Linked DNA regions of Homo sapiens: all the other regions are linked to region 2. The links come from fine-mapping of genetic effects on gene expression. A gene starts in region 2. Each other region holds a variant in brackets. All regions are shown on one strand. Distances are from middle to middle.

Region 1 (10,296 bases), 26 kb before region 2:
ACCAATCAGGACTTACCCTAGGAAAGGAAGGGTGGTTCAACATGCAACAATTAATCACTGTAATACATCACACTACTACAATGAAGGAAAAAACACATCTCAATTGACGCAGAGCAAGCATTTGACAAAATCCAACACCCTTTGATGATCAAACACTTAAAACTAGGAATAGAAGGGAACTTAATGGATAAAGAGCATCTGAAAACCCACAGCTAACATCATATTAATGGTAAAAGACTGAAGCCTTCCCCCTAAGATCAGGAACAAAACAAGGATGCCCACTTTTCACCACTGCAATTCAACATTGTAAACAAAGTTGTTGCCAGAGTGATCAGGCAAAAAAAAAAAAAAAAAAGAAATAAAAGACATCCAAATTGGAAAAGAAGAAGTAAAACTATATTCAGAGATGATATGATCTACTATGTATAAATCCTAATGAATCCACAAAAAAACTATTTATTAGAGCTAATAAATCATTAAATTTGCAATATACAAGATCACTATGCAAAAATTGCTGTATCTCTACATATTAGCAATGAACAATCTGTAAAGGAAATTAGGAAAACAATTCCATTTATAAAAATTCATAAAAGAATAAGATACTTAGGAATAAATTTAGCCTAGGATATGCAAGACTTGTACACTGAATACCACAAAATATTGTTGAAAGAAATTTTAAAATACTTAAATAAATGGAAAGATATCCCATGTTTGTGGATTAATATTGTCAATATGGCAATACCTTCCAATTTTTCTACAGATTGAATGCAATCAAAATCCCAACATCTTTTTTTGCAGAAATGGAAAAGCTAATCCTAAAATTCCTATGAAAATACAAGAAAGCAAGAAGAGCCAAAACAATCTTGAAAAAAGAAGAACAAAGTTGGGAGACTCACGCTTCCTGGTTTTAAAACTTACAAAGCTACAGTGTCAAAACAGTTTGATACTGAGATAATAATAGATACATAGGTAATCATATGGATAAATGGAATAGGATAGAGAGCCCAGAAATAATCCCTCACATATATGGTCAAATTATTTTCAACAAGAGTACCAAGTCCATTTAACAGGGAAAAGAACAGCCTCTTTAGCAAATGGCGCTGGGACCACTGGATAGCCATAGGACAAAGAATGAAACTGGACCCTTACCTCACACCCTGTACAAAAATCAACTCAAAATTAAAGATCTAAATGTAAAAAGGTAAAACTTAAATTCTTTGAAGAAAACATACGAACAGGGAGGCCGAGGCGGGCGGATCACGAGGTCAAGAGATCGAGACCATCCTGGTCAACATGGTGAAATCCTGTTTCTACTAAAACTACAAAAATTAGCTCGATGCAGTGGCACGTGCCTGTAATCCCAGCTACTCGGGAGGCTGAGGTAGGAGAATCACTTGAACCCAGGAGGCGGAGGTTGCAGTGAGCTGAGATCATGCCCCTGCACTCCAGCCTGGCAACAGAGCGAGAATCCATCTCAAAAAGAAAAAAAAAAGAAAACATAGGAAAAAATCTTCACAGCATTAGATTTGGCAATGTTTTCTCAAATAATACAGCAAAGACACAAGCAACAAAATAAAAAATAGATAAATTAGACTCCATTAAAATTTAAAACTTTTATACACCAAAGTTTACTACTGAGAAAGTGAAAAGACCACCCACAGAATGGGAGAATATTTGCAAATCATATATCTGATAGAGGTCTAATATTCAGAATATATAAGTAACTTACATACTCAACAACAAAAAGACAAGCAAGCAATTAAAATATGGGCAAACAGCTTAAGTAGACTTTGTCCAGTGAAAACATACAAATGGCCAACAAGTACATAAAAGATGTTCAATATTATTAGTCATTAGGGAAATGCAAATCAAAACCACAATGAGATACAACTTCATTCTTACTATGACGGCTGTAATTTTTTAAAGTGAAAAACAACAAGATGCAGAGAAACTGGAGCCTGCATACACTATTAGTGGAAATGTAAAATGGTGCATCTCCTTAGCAAAACAGTTTTACAGTTCTTTGATAAGTTAAACATGGAATTACCACATGAGTCAGCAAGCCCACTCATAGGTATATACCCCCAAAATTAAAAACAGGTGTTCCTATACATGAACATTCATAACAGCTCTATTCACAATAGCCAAAAAATGGAAACAACCCAAATGGCCATCAATGAATGCATATTATTCACCTATTAAAAATATGAAATACCGATACATGCCACAACATGGATGAATGGAGAATGTCTGCTTAATGGGTGTAAAGTGTACATTTTGAGTGATGAAAAACTTCAGGTACTAGATACTGATGATGACTGCATAACACTGTGAATGTACTTAATGTGACTGAATTGTACACTTTAAGATGGTTACAACAGTAATTTTAGGGGAGGGGAATAATAATAGTATTATTGCATAAAATACTTATGAAGAGTAAGGTAAATTAAAGGACATAACCTTTGTAGAGTGCTTAGAACAGTGCCTGGTACACAGTTGGTATTACAGAGTTCTAGAGAGAGGAAGAAAAAGAGAAAGAGGTAGCAGCATCACCCTTGAACGTGGGGGAAGAAACTCTGAAAGGAAGCGGAAGGGCTTCCCAGCCTTTTATACAGAGGGAGGTCAACAGGAGTCTGAGAACTCTACCCATTAGTTCTATTTTCTATGAGGCACAAGAATTCTCAATGGCACCTAGAACCTGGCACCTGCCTTGCGAAGCCAGCTCAGGGACTCCCTCTAGGAGACAGCAGGGTGCAGAGATCAGACTGCATGGACATAGGGCCACCATCCAGACACTCAGTCCTTTGACAACAGCAAAACAAGGAAGTTATTGTTCTGCACAATGTCCAAAACACACTGACCCACATGCAGACAGAAAGACCCCCTTCACCTGACTCCAGATCCCCAAATATGGTCCACACCTTCACTCCTCAGGATAGAAGCCTTCCAGTTGTTGACCTGTGGAACCTTCCCTGTGCATCTCCAGCCTTATCCCACCTCCACACTTCCCTCCTGCCGCACTACACCCACCTGCACTAGGCCCTCATGCTGTGCTCCTCCTCCACTTGGCCTGTGCCTCTGCTGTTCCCTCCAACTGGAACTGTCCCTTTTTCACCTGGCTAAATCCAATGCACTCAGATCTCAGCCCACAGAACAAATTCTCATTCGGCCATGTGCCTGTCCCTAGTACGATCTGTCATTTGTCTGTGTGACATTAATGTCTGCACTCTGATGGTCTCTACACTGATGGCCAGGCCCCCAGGAACAAGGATCAGGGAACTCCAGGGTTCCTCCCTCCCCATGCCCACCTCCTCACCATCATTGATCCTCCCAGCCAAGGACTCTGCACTGAAGCCAGCAAAGATGACTGTGTGGACAGCTCCGATCCTGGCACAGGCCAGCATTGCTGCCACAGCCAATGGGGACACGGGCATGTAGATGGCAACACGGTCCCCACGGTGGACTCCATGCCTCTTCAGCGTGTTGGCCAGGCGGCACGTGGTCTCCAGTAGTTCCCTGCAGCACAGGGAAGAGAAAGCCATCAGAGATGGAGGAGGGCCAAAATGCAGAGCAGTTTGGGGGTGGAGCAATACTGCAAATTTTATGTCATATACATCCAGCCCAGTGCCAGGAAAACAGGCACTTGAATACTTAATGCATGGAAAGTACTTTTCCAGAAAAAGAAAAGTTTTTAACATTTGTAGATTGCTATTGGCAGAGATTCACTGCCACATTGCTAGGGTGACAAGGCTATCCTTAAGTCCGCTTACGGCAGGGTTTTTTTAGGGGAACAGGAGCGTAGGGGAGCCATGGTGACACCATTTTAGAATCAATTCCATCTTAAAACTAGCAAGGCACATTCCTTGCCAGTCATGACCCACAGTCATAAGATGTTTACAGCTGACGAAGTAGCTTAATACCTGCAAAGACAAACTCTTGCAACAACAGAATGTCCAGATGCCCCAATATTGCATAATATATGCTTTTAAGATGATTATAGGCATGCTTTGATGTACTTATGCACTAAAATGCCAAGGATAGCTTTCTTTCAATCAACAAAGTAATAAATGTCACTTCGTCAGCCTACCCGCAGGGAGAC[A/G]TAGCTTAGCTTTTACATAGATAAGACCCCTATATAAGAAAGAAACAAAACAGAGGCATTCCTCCTCTTGCTGAGGATGCCCTACTATGTAACTGAGAAGCTTTCAATAAACTATCTCTTTTCACTGCGCTCTGCCACTCGCCTTGGATTCCTTCCCGGCATGATCCAAGAACCCTCTCCTGGGATCCGGATGGGGACCCCTTTTTCCAGCAGCAGCTTCTCAGGGACCACAAGTGTCTGAGGCATAGATCATCATGGTTCCAAAACTTCCGAAAATGTTTGCCTCCAAAAGAAAGACTGATCTCATAAGACATTTAGTCGAGAAACAACAGGTCCCAGATTTCTGAATCAACACAGTCGAGGGGCACCAAATAATGCTCTCAGGGAGCAGACCCCCAAGCCCAGATAGGGCGGACTCCAGCTCTGCAAAGCCACAGTGAGTTGGGAGTGAAGACCGCAAGCAGGGCAGCCACAACTCCCTGCAGCCCCGAGACAGCACTGGCGGGTAGAGCAAGCACCCTGCTTTCTCCCCAAGCTAGGGGACCATGGACAAGGGGAAGGGAAAGCACTGGGCACAAGGTGGGTGAGCAGCACCCCCGCCCAGCCCCCATGTCGTCCACCACGTTGCCTATGTCTATGGTGTGCGCATGCCCTTCCTCTCTGGCCACTCTGGGGCCTATCACCAGGTTCACCCACCACTCAGGGCGCATCATCTCTCTGGGCAAGCTGATTGGCTCAGGGCCGACACGTGACCCAACCTGGTCCAGTCAGAGTCAACCATACTCAACTCCGGGAAAACTGGGAGCAGGCGAGAGCCGCCAACTTGCCGGCCATGCGGTGCGAAGTGGAGGAAGTGGAAGCGATCCCAAGGTTGTCTTTCCTTTCGGCGCCTCATCCCTCTGAATCTGGACCTGGCAATTGCATTAACCACTTTCCCACTCTTGCTGTACTGACTTTAATTAATTATTTGCAATAAAAAGAGCTAACACAGAACGAAGAATGAGGGGAAGCCAAGGCCCTTTCTCTCTGGGCGGGGCAGACCACCAGCCCGCGACCCCTGCCCTCTGCAGGGGCCCAGAAAGCAGACCCTCCTCGGGCTCTCAAGGCCGCTCGCAGCGTGTTTGCATAGCTCTCCTCTGTTCAAAGGGTAGTCAAGGAAAGGGCTCCCGAGAACAGTGAAGCTCAACGAGGCCACCCGGGAAACCACAGCAGAATGAAAATGAGCTGTCCGCATCACAGGCAGGGGCCTCAAGGAGGCCTTTGTTTCTTCCCAAGGCCATCTGCAGAGGGGACCACATGAGAACCAGATCGCAAGGCCAGCCCGCAGTTCTCCCCGCAGCCAGCACGCCTGCCCAGCCTGGCTCCAGCGGCCTCTTCTGTGGGATTTCATCGTTTTCCCTTCAGGCTTTCAGAAGGAGGACAAAGGCGCCTTTCAGTGGCGCCCCACCCACGCACCCCTTGCCAAGGTTTATGATAAAAGACGGAACACTCCCCCGGAAAACCCCCAGCACCAAGCTCTACAGAATCTAGGGCTCAGAAACACTCCTGCTACTCCGGGGAGGAGGCTGGGGTGGCCTGTGACCGGCTGAAGAGGGAGCCGTGGTCCAGAGTCACTCAACATCTTCAGCCAGATTCCGTTTTCATAGCTCTGAGAGCTTAAGCCTCGCTGCTACCAGAGATGAAGGCTTGAATTATGCTCACCAGTTAAATGGCGATGAAATTTAGTCCCTGTTCTGCAGACGGAGGGCAGCAATCTGAAGCCAAGAAAGGACACTGGACTGTCCCTACAGAAAGGCCTGGGGTAGCTTTCTGTAGTAGCTGCCTAGACATGGGAGCTTATCTTTCTGAGCTGCCATGTGACCATCTGAGAAACAGCAAGCACCCTCCACCTTGTACAGCTGTCACAAGTATTAATAAAAAGCAAGACTGACTTGGAACTCTGCCAAACATTCAGTAGCTATCGTCTTTCCCATCAGATGGAAATTCTCAGAAATCTTTGTTTGAAATCGTTTTCTAAAATGACAAAAACCAGCTAACTCACTTCAGTGAATTCCTGAGATGTTAAAAATCCCATTCTAGGCACCTTGGGAGTGAGTGGGGTGTTTGCATTTGAGAAAGGAATTGACAGGGAGAGTGTCCTCCAGGAGCACAGCTCCGATGAGGAAATGACGGCACATGTGAAGGTGTGCAGGGCACTGAGCAGCTCAACTTGGTGGTACAGCCACTGGGGGTGGCAGGGAAGGGCAGCAGGGAGAGCTTTCTGGATAGATTGGCTGTTGGGAGGAGGACTGGGGCAGAAAGAAGAGTGGATTTTCCCTATAGGGGCAGAAGTCACCCAGTCATTGAAGCTGGACAGCTAAACGACAGCCTCCAGGGAGGGTCTAGAGACCAGGTTTCCCTGGAAGACTGAGGGGCCTCAACATGGGCCCAAGAGCTGAAGCAGGGTCTGGTGAGTCTCACACTCTTGCTGCTGAGTCCAGAGGAGGGGCTCCTGATGAAGGATTTGATCCGGTAAATCTCAGAGCTCTCTCCCTTCCTATTTTCTCTGCCAAGGTCATAAACCTTGAAGTGGAAAGGATCCTTGGACGTCAGGCGGTGCAGCCTCCTTGAGGTTCTGAAATCTGGCAGCCACATTCTGGCCTACAGCAGTCCAGCCTCTACTTAATCATCACACTGCCAGAGCTCACCTCATGGGGCCACATCTCTGTCACTTTAATAGGGAAACAGTCTACCAAAAATTGGACCAAGATTTGCAGCTCTTCAAACTCCACCCCTTAGTCCTACCTCAGACCTTTAAAGCTTCCCAGAATAAATCTAATTTCTCAATGACAGCCCTTCAAATTCCTGAATACTCCTTGCCCCTCATCCTCTTGGAAGCTTTTCCTCCCCAGGTTCTCTGGTCGAGCCCTCCATGACGGCACTCGATCTCAGTAGACACCCCCAGACTTCCAAATGGACCCCCACATTCTCATGGTGCCTGCCCAGAGCTGAATGTGGGTACCCAGACCCTTGACCTCAATTCTATATTTAACCTTTTTTTTTTTGAGGTGGAGTTTCGCTCTTGTTGCCCAGGCTGGAGTGCAATGGCACGATCTCAGCTCACTGCAACCTCCACCTCCCAGGTTCAAACAATTCTCCCACCTCAGCCTCCCGAGTAGTTGGGATTACAGGCATGCACCACCATGCCCAGCTAATTTTGTATTTTTAGTAGAGACGGGGTTTCTCCATGTTGGTCAGGCTGGTCTTGAACTCCCGACCTCAGGAGATCCACCCACCTCGGCCTCCCAAAGTGCTGGGATTACAGGCATGAGCTATCACCACGCCAGGCCGACCATATGGATTTTTTGTTTTTTGTTTTTTGTTTTTTTTGAGATGGAGTCTCGCTCTGTTGCCGAGGCTGGAGTGCAGTGGCGCGATCTCCACCCACTGCAAGCTCCGCCCCCTGGGTTCATGCCATTCTCCTGCCTCAGCCCAGCCGGAGTAGCTGGGACTACAGGTGCCCGCCACCACGCCTGGCTAATTTTTTTGTATTTTTAGTAGAGACGGGGTTTCACAGTGTTCACCAGGATGATCTCAATCTCCTGACCTCATGATCCACCTGCCTTGGCCTCCCGAAGTGCTGGGATTACAGGTGTGAGCCACCGCACCCGGCCGACCATATGCATTTTTAAAATACCTGACAGGTGGCTCAAATTCAACATGAGGTCACTAACCTGCACCCTCCCAACTCCTAATACATGTAACAGATGCCCTTTAACTAGGGCTTGCTCCTATTATGGCCATGGAAATGTTTTGTGTTTTTTTAAAGCAGGCTTTCCATTTATCCCAATCTAATTCTATCTCAATTTCTCCCCATCTTTCCAGGTGACTTTTTTTTTTTTTGAGATAGAGTCTCACTCTGTCACCCAGACTGGAGTGCAGGGGTGCCATCTCCGCTCACTGCAACCTCCACCTCCCAGGTTCAAGGGATTCTCCTGCCTCAGCCTCCTGAGTAGCTGGGACTACAGGCGTGCACCACCACACCCAGCTAATTTTTGTATTTTAGTAGAGACAGGTTTCACCATGTTGGCCAGGCTGGTCCTGAACTCCTGACCTCAAGTGATCCACTGGCCTTGGCCTCCCAAAGTGCTGGAATTACAGGCATGAACCACCACACCCAGCCAATTTTTGAAGCCTGGATTTTTAAGTTTAAACTCTCATTTTTCATTAGTAATATCCTCCAGACATATATTATTGGAAAATATGGTCAGCAAACCTAGGTCTTCAAATCATTGAAAAATAAATGTTGTTCAAGTAAGTGATCCTGCCATTCCAAGTACTCAGGAACCATTTGAAAGCATGTTTTTGGATATTCATAATTTCTCAGACTTCCACAAACCGAAATGTTACTGTTTCTGTATCAGAAAGATAATGCAGCCACTCAGTGACTGGTGCCTTGGGCTACAGTTGCAGGAAACAGTGGCTTCCTCACTACCTGCAGGATCCTCTTATGTAGCACCCTAGTGGGTTTCCAAAGCACGGGGACATGCAGCTTTCTGAGTCACTAAAATGAGTTAGAGTTTTACTTTTAAGTCCAAGAAGAAATATAACACTTGTTGTTCAGGTACTGAGCAGGATATTTAGGTTTGTCTGCAGTGTACTCTGCCGGGTCAAGCTTTTGGTGCAGACGTATGCAAATGATGTGCACAAAAATACAAATGTGGCCTTGTGTTCCTGGTGCTTAACACTAGGAAAACGCTGACTGGCCTTGGGGAAGGAAGAAGACTTATTACCAACTCTTAACATCAATTGGGAATAACTTTTATCCAATGCTAAAGATACAATCTGACTGCAAGTAATTGTGACCAACACGATAACTGCCTGAACTCAGACGGTACAACTGCACCCCTGCCCCCCACCCCCCGCCTCAGAATTTAAAATTAGTCCAAAACAGGAAACAGCTGGAAACAGAGTTCAGAGAAAAGAGAGGAAGAAATACACTGGTATTTATTTTTTCATCTGTCTTTCAATCAGAGCTAGTTTTGTCACGGTTAATATTGAAAGTGTCTTTTCCTCCTAGACATTTCCTGATGAAGGCCCAGGATAAGTAAGTCCTGTGTGTGCTCTCGTGTTTAAGAAATAAACAAATTAAGGCTGGGCATAGTGGCTCACAGCTGTAATCCCAGCATTTTGGGAGGCTGAGGCAGGCAGATCACTTGAGGTCAGGAGTTTAAGACCAGCCTGGCCAACCATAGCAAAACCCTGTGTCTACTAAAAATACAGAAATTAGCCAGGCGTGGTGCTGCATGTCTGAATCCCAGCTACTTGGGAGGCTAAGGCAGGAGAATCGCTTGAACCCAGGAGGTGGAGATTGCAGTGAACTGAGATCCCATCACTGCACTGCAGCCTGGGTGACAGAGCTAGACTCTGTCAAAAAAAAAAAAAGAAGAAGAAGAAAGAAAGAAAAAGAAAGAAAGAAGAAAGAAAGGAAGGAAGGAAGGAAGGAAGGAAAGAAAGAAAGAGGGAAAGAAAGAAATTGAGAATGCATGATTGTTTATTGCTTACAATTATTCTGGCAGTCAGTATTCATGAAATAAACATTAGCTAACAGACTTCTTTGTTGTCCATCAAGTACAAGGTCTGCTTGGGTAGAGATCTGGGTTTTGCTTATTGCCTTCCTCCTGGCATCCACCTAGCTCATATAAGGTACTCAATAAATATTTGTTGAGCAAATGGGCGCAGCAGGTGAGCATGAAGTGGGAAGGACCTCCACCAAGAGCGACACCCACCCTGCAGACACCCTGTGTCCTCCTTCCCCTGAGGGGCTAGGCTGCTGTCACCTTGCATCACGCTGGCATGAAGATGTGCTGCTGCTCTGAGAAGCAAATGGGAAGGACCCCCTCTGAGAAACCAGCCTACAGAAACGTTTCATTTTCTTCTGCCAATAAGGGAAGTAAACCCAGGTAATTGTCTTGATATGTGAAGGCCTCTGACAGACACAAAGCATTTCCTCAGGCTCAGTCACTTCTCTCCAAGCACCGGTGCTGATGGGGGCTGGGGAAGGCCAACTCCATGGTCTAGATCCAAAACTTGAAAGGACATTCCTATGCTGTCTCTAGAATTTGATATTTTCTTCAGCATGCTGTGTCAGGAACATATTCGTAGTAAGAGAAGAAAGGATCAGCCTTAGGGAAGGGAAGCCTGGCGAGGCTGACCCC
Region 2 (10,296 bases):
CTGGCAGGCTTTGAGATATTACGTCAGTCACAAAAATTGTTTTGGACAATTTTCCCAAAGCATCTGTTATTTAAAGTAAGTCGTGCCCCTGACAGCTGGGGAGGACTTGGATTCCTCGGGAGGATCCTCCTCCTAAGATTAGGGGTTCCTTTTTCATGTAGAGTTCCCTGAAAAACCTTAGAAAAGTTACTTTAATCACTGGAATCACTAGGAGGAAAATGAAGCACAGGCGCACAGCGTCTTGCCGCTGTCAGTGTCCTGCCTTCTGAACGATTAGAGGCATGCCACAGAGAGGAAACTACAGCAAACACAGAGGAACTACAGCAAAAGGGCCTCTGTTCCTGCAATTAATCTCCAAAAAGCATCCAAGAAATTTCCCAGTGCTCAATGCTTGGTTACAAAGAGGATTTTTACACTCTTGCTTAAGAGTACACACACTGAAAAACATCACTTAAAATTGGGGGTTTTAAAAATAGAGCTTAGCTGTGTGTTTTGAAAGCAACACATGTCATTACCCTCTGGTTCTGCATTTACAACTTCCTGACATCTTGAGTTGATATGCCACAGGGCAAAAAGAGCTGCAGAGCCCTACAAAGGACAGAGCCAAATTTCACAGGTGGGAAAGAATCCCTTTTAGAACCTGGCTCTCCAAAGAACCTTCTGCAAGGCAGTTTTACACAATAGAAGCAAGTCACAGAAGGGCACAGACACTCTGTCTACCCTGCCCAGTGAGTCTCAGACACCATAACCTCAACTGGCTATTGGAGTTGTGGGATGGGCAGGATACTGTGGAGCTTTGAAAGCAACCTCAGCCACCTGCATGCTCTCCGAAGCCTATTCCCCACCTATCCCAGGCTGATCAGATGCAAGCCCATGTGGTCCAGTTCAGATGAAGCTCAGCTCTCTCAGCAGCACTGCCGAAGGCCAAGCACAAGGTCACAGCCTCCCCACATGCTTCATTAATAAATAACAAATAGTCAGTGACTGGGGATGTATAATGTGTTAAGAAAGTGCTGAGTGCCTTACAAGCATTTCCTCATTTCATTCTAACAGCCCTGGGATGGGTGTGCTGATAGATACTCCCATGGATAACAAAACAGGTGCAAACACTCAGGTCCCCTTCCCCAGGTCGGAAGATGCCTGATAACATCTGTGCTGGTCTCTTGGACCTCTGGTTGCAGGAAATTGCCTGGGCCCAGCCACCATGCTGTGACAAGCCCCAGGAGGTGCTTTGGGCCACAGTTCTGGCTGAAGCCAGCCTGCAAGTTGTCCCAAACAAGGCTCCAGACTTGGGAGTGAGAAACAGGCAGATGACTCCAACCTCAGACACTGAGGAGCAGGAGCAAGTGTTAAATAAAATGTATAGGAGGCCACTGGTCTGGACTGAGCTGCATGAGGCCCAATAGATCACACAAAAATGGAGTCACTCTTGCTAAAGTGCGGTGTCACCAAATGGAAACTAAGTTGTTTATCCGACCTTCTAAGAAACAAGGAGAGTGAAAGATAGCTAAATCTCCAAACAAGCTGGCATGATAAGGGAGCTCCTTCCACTTTCACCTTTACAACAAAAGTAGCTTTGAAATAACCAGTCCACTTTTTGTTCTCCATGTCTGCATCCTTCAGCCCCTTCTGTCTATAAAACCATCCTCCTCTGTTCAGCTCATCAAACATTCCTTCTGTTTTATGGAATGGGGTGTTTCCCAATTCTATAATCACGAATAAAGTGAAGTAAGGTCTTTAAACTAAATTTGTCCTAATTTTGCCCTTTGACATGAGTCATCCCCATCGGGCCCTGTCCAAAGTCCTGACTCACAGACTCTGCGAGGAATATAAAATTGTTGTTATCTTGTGTCACTAAACTTAGGGGTGGTTTGATGTACATCAATAGTAACTAGGACAGAATTCAGTTACATACGGCCCTTGTTTTACAGATGAGGAAACATGCAAAGTACAGTACAGGGAAAGCAAGAAATCAACCCGAGTCATGATTCTAAAGACACCTGGAGCCACGAAACTGTGTTGCGCCATCCACAGCCCATCATTTGCTTGCTGTTTGTTTAATAGGGCCAAGGCCAGGACACTAATCCCAATTCTGTTTTAGAAGTGCCTTCATCTGCCCTGGTTTGAGGCGTACAGGCCAGTGGTTCTCAAGCCCGAGTGTCCTCTGGAGCATCTGAAGGGCTCGTTATAAACACAGGTGTCAGGTCCCATCCCAGGGTTTCTGATTCCAGATGTCCAGGATGGGCTCCAGAATTTGTATTTCTCAAAAGTTCTCAGGTAATGCTGATGCTGCAGGTCTGAAGACCATGCGTTGAGAACCACTGGTATTCTTGAGGGGGTGAGGTGAAGCTTTCTTCAAGAGTGATATTCCTTTGGAACAAGCCATCTGACTTTATCACACACAGCTGACAGATCAGACCAAAGTGTTCTCATCCATCCCACGACTTTCTAGATGCTCCCAGAAGAGTCATGGCCTGGCCTGGCCCTTTTTCATACTGTCTTCTCTATGGTTTGCAGACACCGGCAAAGGAAAGAGATATTGCTGACCCATGAACAGGAGGGCACGCACATCCCAGGGGAGAAAGCTGCTGAAAAGCTGTTTTTCAAGTTAGTTTTCTGAAGCTCAATTTCTGGCTAACGTAGCCATAAAGGCCATATTATCAGAAGAAATAAGTGAAGGAAAAGGAGACAGAAGAATGCTTGCTGACCACACCCTGATCCTGACCGAGCGAGGTTCAGAAGGTCCTTGCTGTTGGCCCCAGGAGGTCCGCCCCACTGTCTTATCTGAGTGGGGCTGCAAGTGTGCACAGGCCAACTGTGAATGTTCCCCATGACCTTGGCCTCACAAGTCCAGAGCAGGTCACTTTCCACCTCTGTCCTTGGGCAAGCTGCTCTAGTCTCCTTCAAGGGCACATTGCCCCAACTCTGCAAACCAAAGGGTTTGGTTTTTTTCCCACTAGTTCAAGGGCACTTGCTGCTGACTCAATGTTAAAGAAAACACTTATCTAGTAAGTGACTCATTTTAATTAAACCAGCAAAGTAATATACAATTTCGGGGAGTGGGGGAGGTCCAAAGTTCCTTCCAATTTCTTTGAAAAATAACTGCAAGACACTATCTATAATTGTATGACTATTTCTGAAGTTATCTAAAATCGCTACTGCTTATGGGTCACCAGTAAGCGCTGGGTCTGCTGCACACCTTGCAGCACTCAGCCTAACCTCTGAGCATGACTGCCCCCATCCTCACAATGAGGAGACTGAGGGCTGGGGGGGCAGAACAACAAGGACAACTGAGGGAGGAGTTGGAGAAAATGGGGCCCTGGTGACCCTGCCATAAAGACCCGCAGGTCCTTTCTTAAACACTCCCAAATCCAGCAAGCTGGTTATGACCACCCTTCTGGTCTGCATCCCTCTGATCAACACCGTGTCTGCCAGCCCCTCCCCGCAGGCCCCACACCCAGGCCCACCCTGCATCCGGAGCCCACCTCGCACTTGGCACCCACCCTGCGTGGCCAGCCCTGCCTGCAGTTCAGGGCCTCCCCCTCGGTGCCCAGTCAGCGCCTTAGGTGGGGGCGAGGGTGCTGTGTACGACCCCCAGCCCCAAATCTTAGCAGAGCAGCAGGGCCTCTGCTCAGCAAGTTCCAAACAACTGACCACCAGTCAACTGTTTGGGGCCGACGTCAGACCCCGCGGGTCCAAAGCAGGCCCCAGGTCGCTGGGGTGCAGTTCTCTGAGGCCGAGAACGAGAACGGGGAGGCCGCCGTTACTTCCTTCCCGTCCACAGGCCCCAGGCCCCAGGCCCGCAGCGAAGAAATAACTGGTTCCAGCTGCCACGCCGAGTTTCCTCCTCCCCAGGTCGCCCGCCACAGCTCTGTTTGTTTACGTGGGCAGGGCTTGTCCCCAGGCTGATCCCCGGGCACCGCAGCCCGCAGTGACAACCGCCACCGCTTTGTTTTTCCCTCCACCCCGGTATGGGAACGGGAAAGTCCCGACTCCGGGGCGCTCGGGTGTAGCCCGCGGCTCCCCGCCGGCTCTTGCTCAGCGGCGCTATGCACCCGGTAACGCAACTCTGGAGTCCGCCGAGCGAGGAGCCGCGCCGAGCAAGGCCAGCAGCGGGGCGTCCCAAGCGGCCGCCGGGTCCCCGCGGGCGCCGGCCCGAGCTGGGCACGTGGATCTGGGGCCCGATGGGATGAGGGACGGGGTGACGTGGAGCCACTGCTTAGAGCGGGCGGGGCGGACGGAATACCGGAGGAGGGGCCCCTGCAGGGCTGCGATCCGCGCTGCCCGGGGACGGCTGCCGCTGGCGAGAGGCTCCGAGTCCCCTCGGGACCCAAGAGTTGGGGGCGTCCTGGGTCTCCCGAAGCCCACTCACCAGAGACATTTAACTGGCCTCCCAGGAACCAGCCGATCTTGCCAGTGCTGAAGTCGCAGTCCCAGACGGTGTGGTAGGGGGTGTCCCACACGAGAGTGTCCCGCGCCAGAGGCCCCCAGAAGGCGGCCGGCTCCCGGGCTGCCTGTGCACTCAGCGCGGGATACGAGCCTGGCTGTGCTGCTGCTGCTGCAACTGCGGGAGCGCTGCCCGAGGGTCCCGAGGCCGCCCTGCGCGGCGCGCTCACCCCGCACGGCGGCCGCGCGGGCTGCCCCGAGAGCCCTCGCAGGCTGCCCAGCAGCCTCCCGACGCCGCGGCCCAGGGTGCGCGCCGCCATCTAGGCAGGCTACCTGAGCTCTCTGTGCTCCCAGAGTGGGTGCCTCACGCCCGGGGCGCCCCGTGGAGTCTCCGCGGGCCCCGCCCCTGCTCCGCCCTTCCGCCACCATCCATTCCTCCAGGGCCCCCTCCCGGAGCCCGCCCGGGTCCCACCCCTTCTTCTGCTGCCCGGGAGAGGGGGGGCCGCTTAGGAAGAGGGGAGCAGCGTGGGGAAGGGGTGCAGGGGAGCGCGGGGCGGAGCAGGGTCCCAGGCCCTGGCCCAGGCGCTGCGCTCCGGTGAGTCTGCGGTCCCACCCGGATGTTCCTCGAGTCGGCCTGTTTTGGTTTCAGTTTGCACGCTCTCCTGCAAGCCCCGACAGCTTCTTCGAGCTGCCAGAGGCACGTGCGGCCCAGGACCCCAGGACGCAGGCTCAGGGCCTGGGGCGAGGGGACCCTCTGGGATGGGGAGGAGCCGGGAGGGAGCCGGCACCAACGTTAAGGGGGCTGGTGCACCCAAGCGCACTGGTGGGTCCCAAGACAATAGGTCGGTCAGTTCCGCATCTCAGAGGCTGAAGCCAAGGTTTTCATGCCTTTGTGCGCCCCTGAGAGTGAACCCCACCCCTGGAGTCTCAGCAGCACGCGAAAGGGGCTGGCGCCTTTCTAGGCTCCCGCCTAGAAGCCAGGAGGCTGCGCAAGCCTGAGTCCGTGTTCTGGGTCCCATGCTCCAGCCCCCCAGCTGCCGGCCTCCGTCCTGGCGGGGGTCACGTCCTGCTGGGGGTCGGTGGTGGGTGATATGGGGCGATGAGGACTTTCTCCAGTTGCTGCAGCATCTGTAGCCTGAGTTCAAACTCTGTGACCTTGAGCAAGTTCCTTAACTTCTCGGTGCCTCGTTTTCCTTTTGGGGAAGACGGAAGTAATGTCTCCCTGGGGGGCGGGGACGGCGGGGGTGGGCAGCTGCAGTAAGGAATACATTGGACAATGTCTGTCAAGCGTCTACCCTTGCGTGGCCCCATAGTAAGCTCAGTAGTGGGGATGATGTTTTTGCAGCTGTGGAGCCAGGAAGGACAGAAGGAAACGTATAAAACTGGTCTCCACCGAGTTCTTAAATATTCTGACACCCAAGAAGTAAATTCATAACAAACGGGTAAACACAGGGAAGAGAGATTTTGGAAAACTGGTTTATTGAGTTCTCTGTGATGGGAAAGTTTCTTTCCCTTGAGCTGTAGGGCTTGCAGAGGGGAGGAGCCTGCCATTGGAGGAGCCTCTGCGTGGGCTAGCCACCAGCCCCTGCTGGGGAATGCTGCTGTCTGCCAGAGAAGACAGGAGTGTACCTAGAGCTGGAGAATCAGTGACATCTACTAGCATAACACATGCCCTGCACAGTGCTAGCGCTTGACCTGCATTTTCTCCTTTATTTATTTATGATACTTTTTTAGAGATAGGGCCTGTAGCCCAGGCTGGAGTGCAATGGTTCCCATCACAGCTCACTACAGCCTGGAACTCCTGAGCTCAAGCGATCCTCCTGACTCGGCCTCCTGAGTATCTGGAACTACAAGCGTGTGCCACGGCACCCGACTAGTCTACTTAATTTGAAACTTATCTAGTGCTGTCCATTCCCACCAACTGTCAAACTCCAGGTGGAAAAAATGAGGAAACTGAGCCCAAATAAATAAAAGGACTTACTAAAGAGCATGCAGCTGGCTAAGGGAAGAGCAAGACTAACACCCAGTGCCCCCAGTGGGGAGCTCGTTGGCCTAAGTTCATTTGAATAGAATATTAAAGACACCCAGTACAGGGCACTGAGAGGCAGAGGTCAGTGAGTAGTAAAATTGTAAACTGAGAAAGCTCCTAACTGTGGCAGGGGGTCCCAAAGACGGCCACCAACTCTTCCTTCCCACGCCTGCACCGCCTGCACATGATGGTGTGCTGCTCTGTCCAGAGGAGGACCCTGGCTGGCTGGATTGCTTTGGCCAGTACAGCCTGGTGGGAGGGATGCTGTGACAGTTCCATGTGGAGGTCCTGAGAGACCCCGTAGCCCCAGCTTATCCTCCCATGGAACCCAGCTGCGAGCTGTGAGGAAGCGGGGCTGGCCTTCCAGAGGAAGGGACCCAGGGCGAGGATGAAGCTGTCCCATCCACAGCCAGGACCAACTCCCAGACAAGAATGACGCCAATGTGGAGGCTCCTGTCCCAGCCAAGGCAGCCTCATGAGTCACCCCAGATAACACCTGGGATGCAAAGGAACCTCCCAGTCCACTTACAGAATTGTAGAAGGAATAAATTTAAGCCACTAAATTTTGGGATGGTTTGTAACTCAGCAGTGGTAACTGATACAACAACTGAGGCTGAAAAATGCATGGTTCTTTCACTCACTGACTATTGCCTCTCAGTGCCCTGTACTGGGTGCCTTTCTTCTCTCTGCCTTCCAAGTGTTGAAGTGCCCAGGAGCTCAGCCCTCAAATCCCCCTTTCTCCCCTGCCCCCTAGGAAACAGCAGCCAGCTCTCTAGCCTCTCACTTTCATATTGACACCTCCCGCCTGGACCTTTCCTCCACATCTCAGTCCTGTATTCAAATGTCTCATTCACATCTGAAACATACCAAGTCCTGGGATTCTTCCCCACAACACGGATCTTCCATGTCAGTGAATGGAAATGGCATTTTCCTGTTGTTTGGGCTCATACCCTTGTCATCCTAGATTCCTCCCCCTCACACTCCACATGCAGCCTGTCAGCAAATCCTGTGACTCACCTTCAGAACACCTGCAGCACTAACCTCTTCCCCCATCACCATCCCCTCCTGCTACCATCCTAACCATACCTATCTCTTTTAGGATTATTCAGTAGGCTTCAAATTGCTTTCACCCTTGCCCCTGACAGCCTAACCAGCAGCCAGTGCAATTCCTTTAAAACAAGAGTCAGAGGAACTTGCTCTGGAGCTTGGAACAATCCAAAGGCTCCCCAGTCTCCTCAAAACAAAGACCACATCATTCCCTGGCCCACAGGCCATAGCCTCACTACTTAACGTGTGGTCCATGGGCCAGCAGCATCACTTGGATACTTTGTAGAAATGCAGAATGCCAGGCTCCATCTCAGACCTGCTGCCTCAGAATCTGCATCTTAAGCCCCAGGGGAGCTGCATGCACATTCACGTTAGAGAAGCGTTGCCCTCCCTGATCCAGTGTACCCTCTTCCTCTGCTCTCACTCATTGGGGCTCCAGCACATCAGCCTCCTCCTGTCCTTCCCATCACCCAGCAGGCTCCCACCTCAGGACTGCCACACGATGTCCCTTCTGCCTGGAATGCTCCACCCAGTTGTCCACAGAGACTCCCCCTCACCTCCTTCAGGTGTCTTCAAACATCCCTTCATCCAAGAGCCCTTTCTTCCCTGTCACCTACATAAAGTTATACCTCCGCCCTCATTCCCTAGTCTCAACCCCTGACTTGACTTTTCTCCATGGCTGTTACTTATTAGCTCTGTGTTTATCTTCCTAGTCCTCCTACCAGGAGGGAGCCCTGTGAGAGAAGAGACCAGCTATGCTGCTTGTGACTGGGCCTGGCACCAACAGCCACCCCATGGAGAGTGCACGGCAATGGCTCCTTCTTCCTACTACCTTCGTTTCTAAGGTCTTCTACAGTTGCAATGAGAAAAGTAGGTAGAACTAACTCTGTTTTAAAATAAATGCTACCTCGTTCCTTCTGGTTGGATAAGAAGAAGTGATCATTTCAGAACCAAACATGTCAGAACCAACCAGGTGGTGCAGAACTGCACTTCTTGCTGCCCGAGTTACCTAGAGGTGGCCTTGAGACCTTCCTTCTGAGTGTCACAGCCCAGGCCAAGGTCGTCCCCACTGCCTCCCTCCTGGCAGCCAGTCATCAACTCTTGCAGAACAAGCACAAGATTGAACAAGCACAAGGAGCACCCACTCTTGGCCCTGCATCCCGAAGGACCCTCAGAGGTTTGGACAGGGCAGCAGGCTATCTGGGCAGTGCTGGTCACATCTTCTCCCTAAGAAGCCGCTGGCCTCAACTTCAGGAGAGCTCACTTGGAACGCTGGATGCTGTCAGGCAGGGGCTGCAGACACACGAAGTGCTTAGAGGGCAGGGTTCTTGGGAATCCGGGATTCGCTTCTGTCTCGGTACTAATGTTTAGGCCAGAAATGCCAACACAGCTGTGACTACTGACCCTACAACCTGCAGCAGTGAATGCTCTTGCCCTTGCTGTACATGTGTGAAAATAAGCAGGAGGACAGAAGCTCACCCGAGGCCACCAGCTAGTAGGTAGCAGAGCCATAGCGTCCAGAGCATCTTAATTTAACAGCTTTAGGGACAGAGCCCACCAACACGGCCTTCGCCATTTGCCTTCATAGCTCCTGCCATGCCCATTACTCCAGAGTCGCAGTGCTCAGATGCTCAAGAAACAGTCCTGGCTGATAACGGATCCCCAACCACTCCCTGTGCACTCAGTGGTCTCCAAAGAGCTGGTAAAACCCTCCCTTCCTCTTCTCTCCTCCATCTCTCCCTCTTCCTGTTCTCTTCATTTGTCTCTGTGACCCCACACACACACACCTCTTTCCAATGACACTCAGAAGAAACCTGTGAGCTTCTCCCATGTGCACCACCAAGAGCTGAGGGCTCTCAGTTGGACAAGGACGGTCCAGTTTTGGTCCCTGCAAGCAAGCAGGTCACAGTTCAAATTGGGGAGAGACAGACACTGTTCAAATAGCTGAAATGCACAGTAAAACCAAAACACAGAATTTAGAAGAGCATGGCAGAGCTCAGATCAAGTACAGGACCCAGATGCTGGGAGTCTGGAATTGGCTTCGTCACCAGTTCACTGAGTTCTTTCTCTACTCTGCATCAGCTACAAAGAAAGATCACCAGATTGGGGAAAAGGAAAAGCAGGTTTTATTCCCGGCCAGGCATGGAGAAGGAGAGAGCACTTGCTCTAAAGACAGCTTCTTCCAGAGCGGTGGGGAGCTGGGGAATGTAACAGGGTTAGATGTGGGGCAGGAGCTATGTAAGCTTATGTGGGGAGGAACTTCAGACACGCAGGTGCAGATCATGAACAGGCTCTTCATACGACACGTGTGCAGAAAGTGGCAACGATTCTCTTCTATGATTCTCTTCTATGAGTGGGGACTTTAGCATTATAATGATATGCTAATGATCTAAAGGTGACAGGGGCCACTGGTTCTGGTTTGCTCGGTTTTGGGCAAGCCTTACTTCCTCTGGTAATTGGCGAAGCGTCCTGAAGTTACCAGGCCACCCAAAGTTCTTTTAAGCAAGCTTACCTATAGATAAAGAGATGAGAAAAAAAATTGAGTAAGAAAAAATGAGGAGCTTTCTCAGCTATATCTCTAGGGCTGCCATGGTGGCAGCTTCACAAGGTGACAGGGCTCCCTTCCCTTCTGGCTCCTATTTCTCGATGTCCCCATGAACTCCGGGTGAGGATGAGGTATGTGGAGTCTGCGCATACATCTGCTTCAGCAGGGGGCTTGAGGATCCCATATGGCTGCAACACACCATAGCCTCATGCACTGTGGCACTGTGCACAAAGCCCTGCAGAAGTGCAGTGCGCCCCTGACCCTGCGGGGTCAACCCAACAACACACAG
Region 3 (10,296 bases), 30 kb after region 2:
AAGCACGTGGGTAAGTAACTACTGGTTCGCGCTTTGAACCCAACCAGCCCTCATCGCTCGGAGCCCTGCGTCCCCCGCTTCCCAATCCCAGAACCCCGGAAGCAGATCTCCTCAGTCCCACTCCCTGAGGGTCCTACAGTCCGAGGTCCCGCAGCGAGGGAGGAGCAAACGCCTGAGCTCCGCGGGAACCCGGCGCGGCTGCCTGCGCGCACGCAGGGACCGGAGCCCGAGCCTGGGCCCTGCAAAGTGGGTCTCCCACTCGCTGCGCGTTCGAGTGGGGCCTCCGCTAAACATGCAGATTAAACAAGGGGCTTCCGATAAGGATAATTACAGGAGGCTGCGCATTGACTTTCCGTTACTAAAGGAAGACCCAAATCTCCCCCTTGCAAGCTGTTCCCGGGATTACCAAAACAATCACTTTCTTTTGAGATCATTGTCTTTTGAACCACTCCAGCTCGGGGCAGAACGCTTTAGACGCTGGCGTTGTTTTCCGCTCCGCGAGGAATTTTCCCCCAGATTTATCTCTGGGTTTAGGGAAGGCGTTGGGCATTCGGGACTGCGTAGTCGTTTGTAAATCCGAATTTGGGGTAGCAGTTAAGTGAGATACCTACGCTTCCACACAGTTTGTAGCCCGAGACCAGTCAGGCAGGCAGGGTAGTCGATTCTAAGGTGGCCCGACCGGGGTCGCCCGCGAATGGAAAGCCTAAGGGGCGAGGGCGGACGCGGGCGCCGTGCCTGCAGCCCCGGGTGCCGACCAAGTGGCCTCACCTGGGACAGGTCTTGGGGTCTCCCTCCCCTAGGTCTCCCTGGAAGGTAGGCGATCACGGGAGTGACAGACCCCGAGTAGATAGCCAGTGATCCAAAGACACCAAAAGGCCAGGCGGTAGGAGCCCAGCCTCAGACACTCTCTATAGTGACCGCGGCGCCTCGGGAAGGATCGTCTTAAACTCATTTTGCAGGTGAGAGCAACTGGGACTTATTAACCCAGTCACATCGGACACAGAGACGTGGCGAGGGCGACACAGAGCAGGAGACTCAATCAAGGAGCCCGTATTGGAGCTCTAAGGGGACTCAGAGATGCAGAAGGAACGAACTTCTAAGGGGTCTTGCAATTCCTGGACTGGGGCGTTCCTAATGCATCCCGGGACCCCAATGCCAGGGAGGGGCCTGCAGGACCCCAGCGGTGGGCGAGTTGTGTCCTGGGTCACCTTGTGTTTCGCAGCGTGGCGGTGGCAGGAGCCCAGCGCGGGAGGACATTTTCATAGCCTCCTACAGTGAGAAACGCCCCCCACCCGACGCTGCGCTCATCTGTGTCCCCGCTGTTGCCGGGGCTCTGGTATCCACTTGCGCGCCCTATGTGGTGGGGATCCACCCAGAGCCCAGCGTCAAGTTATACGGGCGCTTCACTCAGCGTCAGCCAAGACCAGGGAAGCGCTTCTTGCCGTTTAGGAGACGTCTGCAAGAGATAAAAAGCTAGCCCACGATCCACCCACAATCCTCGTGTCCCCGGGGTGCCCTCGCAGTTGCCAAACCTACGGGCCGCGTTTAGGGGAAGCCTCCGCGTCCTGGCGGCCAAAAGAATGGGCTCCTTCCAGCTTCCCCCTACCGGATACCACCTGCAAATCTATTGCCAGAGGCGCAGCTCCCGCGAACGTTCCCGCCCCGGGCGGCCCCCAGGAGTCGTTTTGGGTCCCTAAATCCGTTGAGGGTTCCGAATCTGTCTTCATCAGCCAGGATTACCCGGGATTTAACTAATGAATAAAGGTTCCTCAGCTCATTATTTTCTAAGGAAGATTTCCAGCCCCTCTGTCGCCGACCGCGAATGTGCCTTGGCAGCGCCAGGCTGAGGTTGGACCTGCTGTGAGTGGCTCAGCAGGCACCCCTCTTGGGCTTCTCAGAGCCGCGGCTGGCCAGGCTGGCGCGATAAAGTGCTCAGACACAATGGGGTGGGATGCCCCGAGAAGGTGAAACGGATCGCCCTGTGAGTCTGCAGAAATGACCCCCCACGGCTCCGTTCTTCTGATTTTCCTCCCACCTCTGGCTGCTCCATCTCGGATGCTTTTGTGTCTTCAGTTAAAAGTCCGGGCACAGTGGCTCACGCCTGTAATCTCAGCACTTTGGGAGGGCGAGGCGGGCGGATCACAAGGTCAGGAGTTCAAGACCAGCCTGACCAAAATGGAGAAACCCTGTCTCTACTAAAAATACAAAATTAGCCGGGCATGGTGATGCATGCCTGTAACCCCAGCTACTAGGGAGGCTGAGACAGAAGAATCGTTTGAACCTAGAAGGCGGAGGTTGCGGTGAGCTGAGATAGAGCCATTGCACTCCAGCCTGGGCAACAAGAGTGAAACTCCGTCTCCAAAAAAAAAAAAAAAAAAAAAAGTTGTGGCAGAGGCTGTTTGGCCCCACCCACCTCCAGCCTGACCCCTCCAACTGCACGCCTGCCCAGCCTCCAGTGCCCGCCACATCTTTACCTGGGGACTTTTCTCGACCTTCAGAGCTCACTCTGCCCACTAGCTAAAGGTGCCAATAATTAACACGTGGAGAAATGCGACACCAAACACTGACGGGAATTGCAATGTAAGCACCCCCCGCTACACACACACAAACACACCCCTGCACAGAGTGACTCTTAGAGGTGCCTTCTACTCCGCCTCCCAGAGATCCAAGCAGGAGGAGCTTTAGTTACTTGCTGATGATTGCATTCCATATTGCCTCGTATCTAAATGCTGTTGTGCCTACCCAGACCCCCTTTCCAGAACTGTCGCACCTTCTTCCAGCTGTTGTGAGTGTGGGGCCCTCGAATAGGAAGAATTGCCCTTGGCTGACAAAAGCCCCTTAATCCAGAGCCCCCCACCCCCTGACAAACACACACACTGTGTCATCAACTGACAGAGGGATGATAGGAGGCCTCTCCTCTCGTTTCAAAGGACAGCTCTGCAGAGGCGTTTCTGCTACAAGACCCTCTCCCTTCATGGATCAGACCAAGTCAGCTCCTTGCTCAGCTTGTTCCCACCCCATCTTGGCCCCTCATTCCTGAGACCTTGTCTCAATATCTCTCAGGCGCCCAGACCCTGTCCCTGGCTCTGCTTCTAGCCACCTGAGCTCAGACACTTCCTGTCTCCATCTCGCTTTTACCTGGGTGTTCCTGGAATGCTCAGCTCAAAGTCTACAGAGCCCTTCTTTCTTCTCAGGTGGAACCCCACGGGGCAATCACCATCTCCCTGCCCAGATCTCTGGAATCTTCTCCAATCTGGACCCCACTCTTGAAGCCCAGGCTGTTGTCTCAATGTACTCCTGCATGTCTGAACCAGTCTCCCGGGGCACTGAAATGCAACACACCCAGAGCTGAACACAGCAGCCTCCCCTGCAGCCTGCACCTCCCCAGGTCTCCTCTTCCTCCACCCCGGGGCCCACACAGAATCGAGTGTCATCCTCAGGCCCTCACTCTCCCCACAGGCTCTCCTCCCACGACTGAAAGTGATGAAGATGGCCAACCTCTCTTGGCTTCTTACTGGGGGGCAGCTATTATTATAAACACCTTATCACAATGGCCACATTTCATCCTGACCACAGCTCTATGGGTAGATAATATTATTGTCCACATGCTTCAGATGAGGAAGTGAAAATTTCAAGTGATTAAATAATTGCATAAATTGCCCAAGGTCACTCACTATCCAGTGGCAAAGACAGGATTTGAATACAAGCAGTGTCAGCTCACGGCCTAACTCTGACTGTGGGTGTCTTGCTGCCCTGCATCTCTCTTCAAACCCTCTCAAAGTGGCATCTTCTTTCCTTTGCCTGCTCTGATTTGACTGTGTGCCCTGAAGTTCGTGTGTTGTGCCTTAATCGCCAATGCAACAGTGTTGAGAGGTGGAGGCTTTAGGGAGTGATTAGGTCAGGAGGGCTCTGCCCTGAGGAGTGGATCAATACCATTGTTGCAGGAGTGGGTTAGTTATTGTGGGAATGGGTTAGTTATCGTGAGAGTGGGTTAGTGACCATGGGAGTGGGCACATGAGTTTGGCCCCTTCCCGCCCCCTCTTCTGCTCTTCCTCTCTCACCATGTGACACCTTCCACCATGTGATGTGGCAGCAAGAAGGCCCTCACCTGATGTGGTCCCTTGACCTTGAACTTCTTCCCAGTCTCCAAACCATGAGCCAAATAAACCTGTATTGTTTATGAATTACGCAGTCTGTGGTATTCTGTTACCGCAGCACAGAACAGACCATGACACCACCCATTGCCACAACATGGCTCAGACCAATTGCTCACTTGCTGGAGTGGAATTTATTTTTTAGTCTAGGGCTACTCAGTATACAAATGAGTTTCAGAGTACCCTAAAGAGGTGGCTTCTAAAAAAAAAAAGAAAGAAAGAAAGAAAAAAAACAGCAGGTAAAGTCCTCCTTGTCCCACTCCTTGGCAGTTCTGTGACCTTGACCCAGGGACAAAAGGAGAGGGAGGGTTTTCTGCAGCAGCAATGGTGGGTGTCCCGTGGCTACCCTGCATGCTATGGCACACTCACTGCTGTGCCCTGTGGTGACTTGGCCTTGTTCCCAGGTGCCTGGGCTGCACATCCCTGCCCTTCCTCTCCAGCTGTCCATCAGTCTGGGGAGGGGGTGTATGGGGGAGAAACAATGCCATTCAGTAAGGCTATTTTCTGTGTAAATTGGCTGGGTGACATTTCTGTGGTTTGCATCCAATAACCCTGTCTAGGGTGTATGGCCAGGGCTCTGCCCTCTGGAATCTCCTTCTACCTCCTTCATGCCCCTCCCCATACCCCACCACTGCCATCTTTATTCCACAGCCACAGTGATCCTTGCCTGAGCACAGCCTATTGCTCCCTACTGCAGTTTCCTCAATGGCTTCCCCTTGCCACATGGGCAATGCTAACTCCTAACTCCTTCCTGCTAGTGACTGAAGAAGTGATGGTATCACATGCCCAGCTCATCAGTGAACAAGCAGGCTCTTGAGAGTCAGCAATGTGGTATATCCTATAAAACTGACCCAGGGTGCGGAGATCAGGGTTGTCCATCCTCTCATCAGCCCCATGAGAGCACCAGCCCCCGAGTTCCCTTTCTTGGCTGGATGTTCCGGTTACTATTTTAAGGTAACACATTATCCCAAAACTCAGCTACTTACAAACCATTTCATTTTGGTCACAGTTTTGTGGCTCAAAAATCTGGGGAGAGCTCAGCAGGCCATTATCACTTAGAGCCCTCCTGTGGTTGCTGTCTGGGGTGGCAGTCATCTGAGGGCTCAACGGGGCTGTGCTGGGTGCTCAAGGCAGCCCGCTCACATGGCCCAGGCTGATTGGCCTTGTGGGCTCTCGGGGAGTTGGGAGCATCCCACAAGAACCAGGCAGATGCTGCACAGCCTTTGCTGGCCCTTCCACAGAAGTCAGAGCATTACTTCCATCACGTTCAGTCAGCGAGGCCATAGCATGAGTTTTGGGGGAGTGGCACTTCTGCTTTCATGGGCCCCTTCTTCCATAAAAATATTTAAAGTTGTATTTTGTGCCTATGTTGGCATAAAGGTGAATATAATCCAGTCTAGATTCATTATTGTATATTCTTTATTATTGTACTCATTTTTCCTTCTGATTTTAAAATATATTCAATGGCATTAGAAGCATAGGCCCTGGGCATTGTACCCAAGGCATTAGTGTGCACTGGCCCTGCTGACTGGTTTAAGCAGCCACAAGCCACCAGATTCAAGGACAGGACACAGATTCAAGGTGGGACACAGGACCCACCACATCGCACTTGCAGGGCCAGGCGCCAAGCAGTGCTCAGCCACCCATCAACGCCCAGCCCAAATGGTTCCTCACCGCAGAGCCTCCCCAGGTTTTCCTGCCCCAGCTGGAACAAAATCACTGCTGCACTCTTGAAGCACTTGATGCTCCTTTGGTCTTATTTTCTTATTCTTAAGTTCTTTTGTGTCTGTTCTCATCTCCTA[C/T]CTGGCTCCAGGAGCCCAGAACTGAGTCTTTTCATTAACACATCCCCTGGACAAATGTTCTTTACCTTCCAGGACAGTGACTTCCCTGGTGGCCTCTGGAAGAGGCCTCCTTACTATGTGCCAGTGGTTCTCAAAGTGTGGTTCCCAAAAGTGGTTCTGGCCACCTGGGCATTGGCCAGAAAAACAAACTCTTGGACCCCATCCAGACCTCCAACATCAGAGACCTTGGGGAGACCCATGATCTGTGTGTTCACAAGCCCCCCAGAGGACCCTGAGCCCCACTCAAGTTTGAGAACCACATCTTCTATTAATGCTTCATGAACCATATATCCTGACTGGTTTTACAAATATGTTGTGGGTGCAGAAACACCCAGTTATTCTCAAATGCTCTGAGGAGCTATGAGGAAAGCTTGAGTTCAGCACTAAGATAATAGTCAGCACCAGACATGAGCTTAGGGAATCAGGAAATTGAGGTTCTAAAAGGAGAAGGAAAAAAGAAAAGAGAAAATTTTATTTTAAAATGTTACATATCAAAAAATACATTAGTGGGAAAACTCACAGCCACCATCGGTGGGGCCCTTGGTCTGCGCCAGGCACTGCAGAGCTTCTCACGAACCCATTCACTTACCACTTGTGACAGCTCTGATGAGGGAGGTCCTGTATCGTCCCCATTCTGTGGGTGAGAAAACGGAGGCCCAGAGCTGGGACCAGCCCAACAGCCAGGGGAGCGGTCAGGACCCAAATCCTGACGGTCAGGCTAGAAGCAGCGAAATCTCCACGGGGCCTGGTCTGTGGCTTAACCTTGGTTTTGTTCTTCATGTTGCAGCGCTTGGGATCTGGCGAGGTCTGACTCTTACACTGTTCCAACTGCTGTAGACGGATGGCATTATGGGCTTGAGGCAGATTTCCCAGAGGCTCACATGCCCCATGGCCGGTCTTTTCCCTTTAGGTCCTGAGACAATAGGAAAATCCTGGGTAGGAATCCAGGTAACACTTTGATTCCAAAGAACATACTTCTCTTCCTCCTTTTCCAGCCTCTTCACTGTCTCTCTCCTCTCCTCTCTTCTCTTCCTTAGCTTCTTCTGGTTAAGTTCCATCTGTAAGACAAAGGAACCCAGAGCCAAGTTAAGCTTAGGAGAGGACACACCATCCAGTCCCTGAGCTAAGCCCACCCTCGGACCCCACTGCAGAAAAGGTCATGAGCAGAGGGCACAGAAGGATCTGCCTCTCCTCCTCTCCCCCATGGCAGACAAAAGCAGGTGCACTGTGTGGACATCAAGAAGGTGAGAGGGAGGTGACATAGGCCACCCTAACCAGAAGGTCACACCTGGGCATGTGAGGGGCCGCTGAAGGACAGCCCAAGAGCTGCTGCTGAGCTTCATTTCTGGTATTAAACAAGCACTAGGTCATCTCTTGGCAATTGAGAAACCTGGCCAATGATAATGTGCTTTTAACCAGCTCATATTAGAAGTGAATGTGATCACTATCCCAGCTCACAGGTAGCACCGAGGCTCTAGGCAAAGGTCAGAACAACTCTGCCAGGGTGGCGTGACTGCGGGTTCCTGCCTCTGCTTGCTGGGGACCTACTTACTCCAAGGAGGCAGGCACCGGCCATGACCCTATTTGAAGGAGGTCTTTGCTCCTCCCTCTGTGCTCAACTCCCAGTCAGCTCCCTCCAAGGCATCCGCCACAATTGCAACCGTTCACTCACCTGCTGGTTTACTGCTTTACCCATCTGCCTTGCCGGATGCTGTAGCTGACAGTGCTGGCAGGCTGCCCTCCGGGTCGCCTGCAGCCTCTGTAGACAGTTCACACACACACCACAGCTTCCTGCCTGCAGCACCTGCCACTCGAGCGGAGGATGCCCCAAAGCCAGGAGTGCACCAGCTAGGACTGAAGTCCTGGGGGGCAGAGGGTGATGCCTCCAGCAGCCACTCTTGACAGATGACAGGGGTTGATGGATGATACCTGGCCAAGGGGTGCAATGATCCTGTGGTAGGAAAATCCCGAAGAGAAATCACCTTGCATAGTCACCCGAGGTCCTGGTGTGATTGAGCCTTGGGAAATGCCACTTGCTGTCACAGCTTCTCTGTGTCCCTGCCCCTCCCCTACTAGAACTTCCTGGGTTCCTCCCACATTACTTACTTCACTCAAATCCCTGTCTCAGAGTCTGCTGTGCAGAACCCAAGCCTAGACTGACCATAAGCTCCAGAGCAGGGCTGGGGCTGGCCTGGGGCCCCTGCATGCCAGGGCCCCGCACACTCCTGGTGCAGAGCCAGTGCTTAGTGAAGGTCTGCAGCGGGGGAACAGGCCATAAGATGGAGGAGTCTGAACCATATGCCTGTTGCCTGACGGGGTCTCCTGGGAGAAACTTAGCTCTTCCCCATTCACTCCACATTAGATCTGGAGTCCTCTCCCCAGTCCTGTCCCCATGCTCAAGGCCTGGTCCAAGGAAGGTTGGCTGGGAGCATGTCATCCACTGTAACCTGAGTGCTCAAGAGGAAAGAAAGGCGCCCCAACATCAGACTCTCACAGCCCAGCCCTGGGACTGCCCTCCTGCAGGAAGAAGCTGAATATTTTACAAAATACTAGAAGAAGAGGCTGAGAAATTTACAAACCTGTTTCACTCACCGGTTTCAACAAAAGTGTGGAAATGAATGTCACTGAGCTGCCACCCTGAAACTGCTTTGTTTGTGCTGAGTTTTCACTGATGAAGGCTAGCAGAAGCGGCAGCATGGCTAGGGCACCTTGGGGACTCTGGCAGGGTTGGCTGCAGCAGCCATCTGTGTGGACCCAGTACCTCCAGTCCATCACCCTGAGTGGAGGGTTGCAGCATGCTTGTCTGATTACTGACTCTTCTTCTAGCTCACTCCCCCTAACACACTAATAACCGGACATGCTCAGATCGGTCAGAGAAATGCTCATGAAAGAGTGGAGGAAGAGAAGGAGAAATCAGAAAGGAGAGGGTACAACAATGAAGAAGACCCATCCATCGCAGACACTGGCCACCACATGCATTAAATCAGCCCTTCCTGGACACAACAAAGGCCACTATCCTAAGTTCAGCTCCCTGTAGAGACAGGAAATGGCAAATGCTGAGACATTTTATTCCTAAACTACCGTTATAGTCAAGTCTTTTGTCTGCCAAAGGGGAAAGGATTCTGCAGTGGTTTATGCTCTTCATCCTCTCACACACTTAGAGGAACTTTGAGTACATACTTCCCATACTGCTGAGCATACATCTTCGGGTCCTGAGGGTTCTTGTCTTTCATTTCAAGTAGGAGGTAAATTTTAGAGTGCCCTGGCCAAGGAGGGAGCCCATTCAGATGGTTGCAAGGAAGTGGGGGGCCTTCGAATTTTATTTTTGGTTTACATAATACTTCAGATGCATGCACCTAACAACAGAGTATCAAAACACAGGAAGCGAAAACTGATAGAACAGCAAGGAAAATATAAGCTATATAAAATTCTTTACTGCATTAATAGTTGGAGACTTCAACGCTCCTTTATCAGTAATTGATAGATCTAGTGGGCATAAAATCAGTAAGGGTATAGTAAGGAACAGCACCATTTATCACTGGATCTAACTGACGTCTATAGAGTACTTCATCCAACAACAGCAGAATACATATTTTTCTCAAGATCACATGGAACATTCATCAAATAGGCCATATTCGAGGCCATAACACATACCTTAACAAATTTAAACGAATAGAAATTATCCAAAATATGTTCTCAGAGCACAGTGGAATTAAACTAGAAGTCAAAAACAGAAATCTACCAGAAGCTGAAAAAAAAATCCCCAAATATATGGAGATTAAGCAATGTACTTCTATTTTACATAAGAATTAAAGAAGAAGTCTCAAGAAAAATTAAAAAGTATTTTTAACTTAATGAAAATAAAAATACAACTTACCAAATGTGTGGAATGCAGTGAAAACAGTGCTTAGAGGAAAATATGTAACATTAAATTCATTTGCTAGAAAAGAAGGAAGGGCCGGGCGCAGTGGCTCATGCCTGTAATCCCAGCACTTTAAGGGCCAAGGCGGGTAGATCACCCGAGGTCAGGAGTTCGAGACCAGTCTGGCCAACATGGGGAAACCCCATCTCTACTAAAAATATAAAAATCAGCTGGGCATGGTGGTGCACGCCTGTAGTCCCAGCTACTTGGGAGGCTGAGGCAGGAGAATAGCTTGAACCTAGGAGGTAGAGGTTGCAGTGAGCCAAGATGGTACCATTGCACTCCAGCCTGGGTGACAGAGTAAGACTCTGTCTCCCAAAAAAAAAAAAAAGAAAAGAAAAGAAGGAAGCTCTTAAATCAATCATCCAATCTTCCAACT

The links. PIP is the estimated chance that this variant, and not a neighbour inherited with it, causes the effect. A credible set is the group of variants that fine-mapping cannot tell apart.
Region 1: its variant is the best candidate, but not a certain one, in a credible set for the expression of ACSS1 in thyroid (GTEx, PIP 0.65).
Region 3: its variant is the best candidate, but not a certain one, in a credible set for the expression of ACSS1 in whole blood (TOPMed, PIP 0.73).

Annotation. Positions count from the first base shown.
Region 1 is chr20:25,027,443-25,037,738 of GRCh38, forward strand. ACSS1 (acyl-CoA synthetase short chain family member 1) reads right to left here. Exons shown (of 14, transcript NM_032501.4): 3 at 3,317-3,516. Among named protein-coding and RNA genes, the nearest start is that of ACSS1, 26 kb to the right of the region's middle. RefSeq lists a silencer at 8,951-9,245. The variant A/G (reference allele first, on the strand shown) is at 4,100.
Region 2 is chr20:25,053,397-25,063,692 of GRCh38, forward strand. It overlaps ACSS1 (acyl-CoA synthetase short chain family member 1), which reads right to left and starts at 4,743. Exons shown (of 14, transcript NM_032501.4): 1 at 4,373-4,743. The coding sequence starts at 4,706. It overlaps LOC124904882 (a long non-coding RNA gene), which reads right to left. Exons shown (of 2, transcript XR_007067555.1): 2 at 9,566-9,974. RefSeq lists enhancers at 3,839-3,968, 4,619-5,224 and silencers at 4,069-4,338, 4,469-4,998.
Region 3 is chr20:25,083,176-25,093,471 of GRCh38, forward strand. No RefSeq gene overlaps it. Among named protein-coding and RNA genes, the nearest start is that of VSX1, 6.2 kb to the left of the region's middle. RefSeq lists enhancers at 248-852, 853-1,458. The variant C/T (reference allele first, on the strand shown) is at 5,957.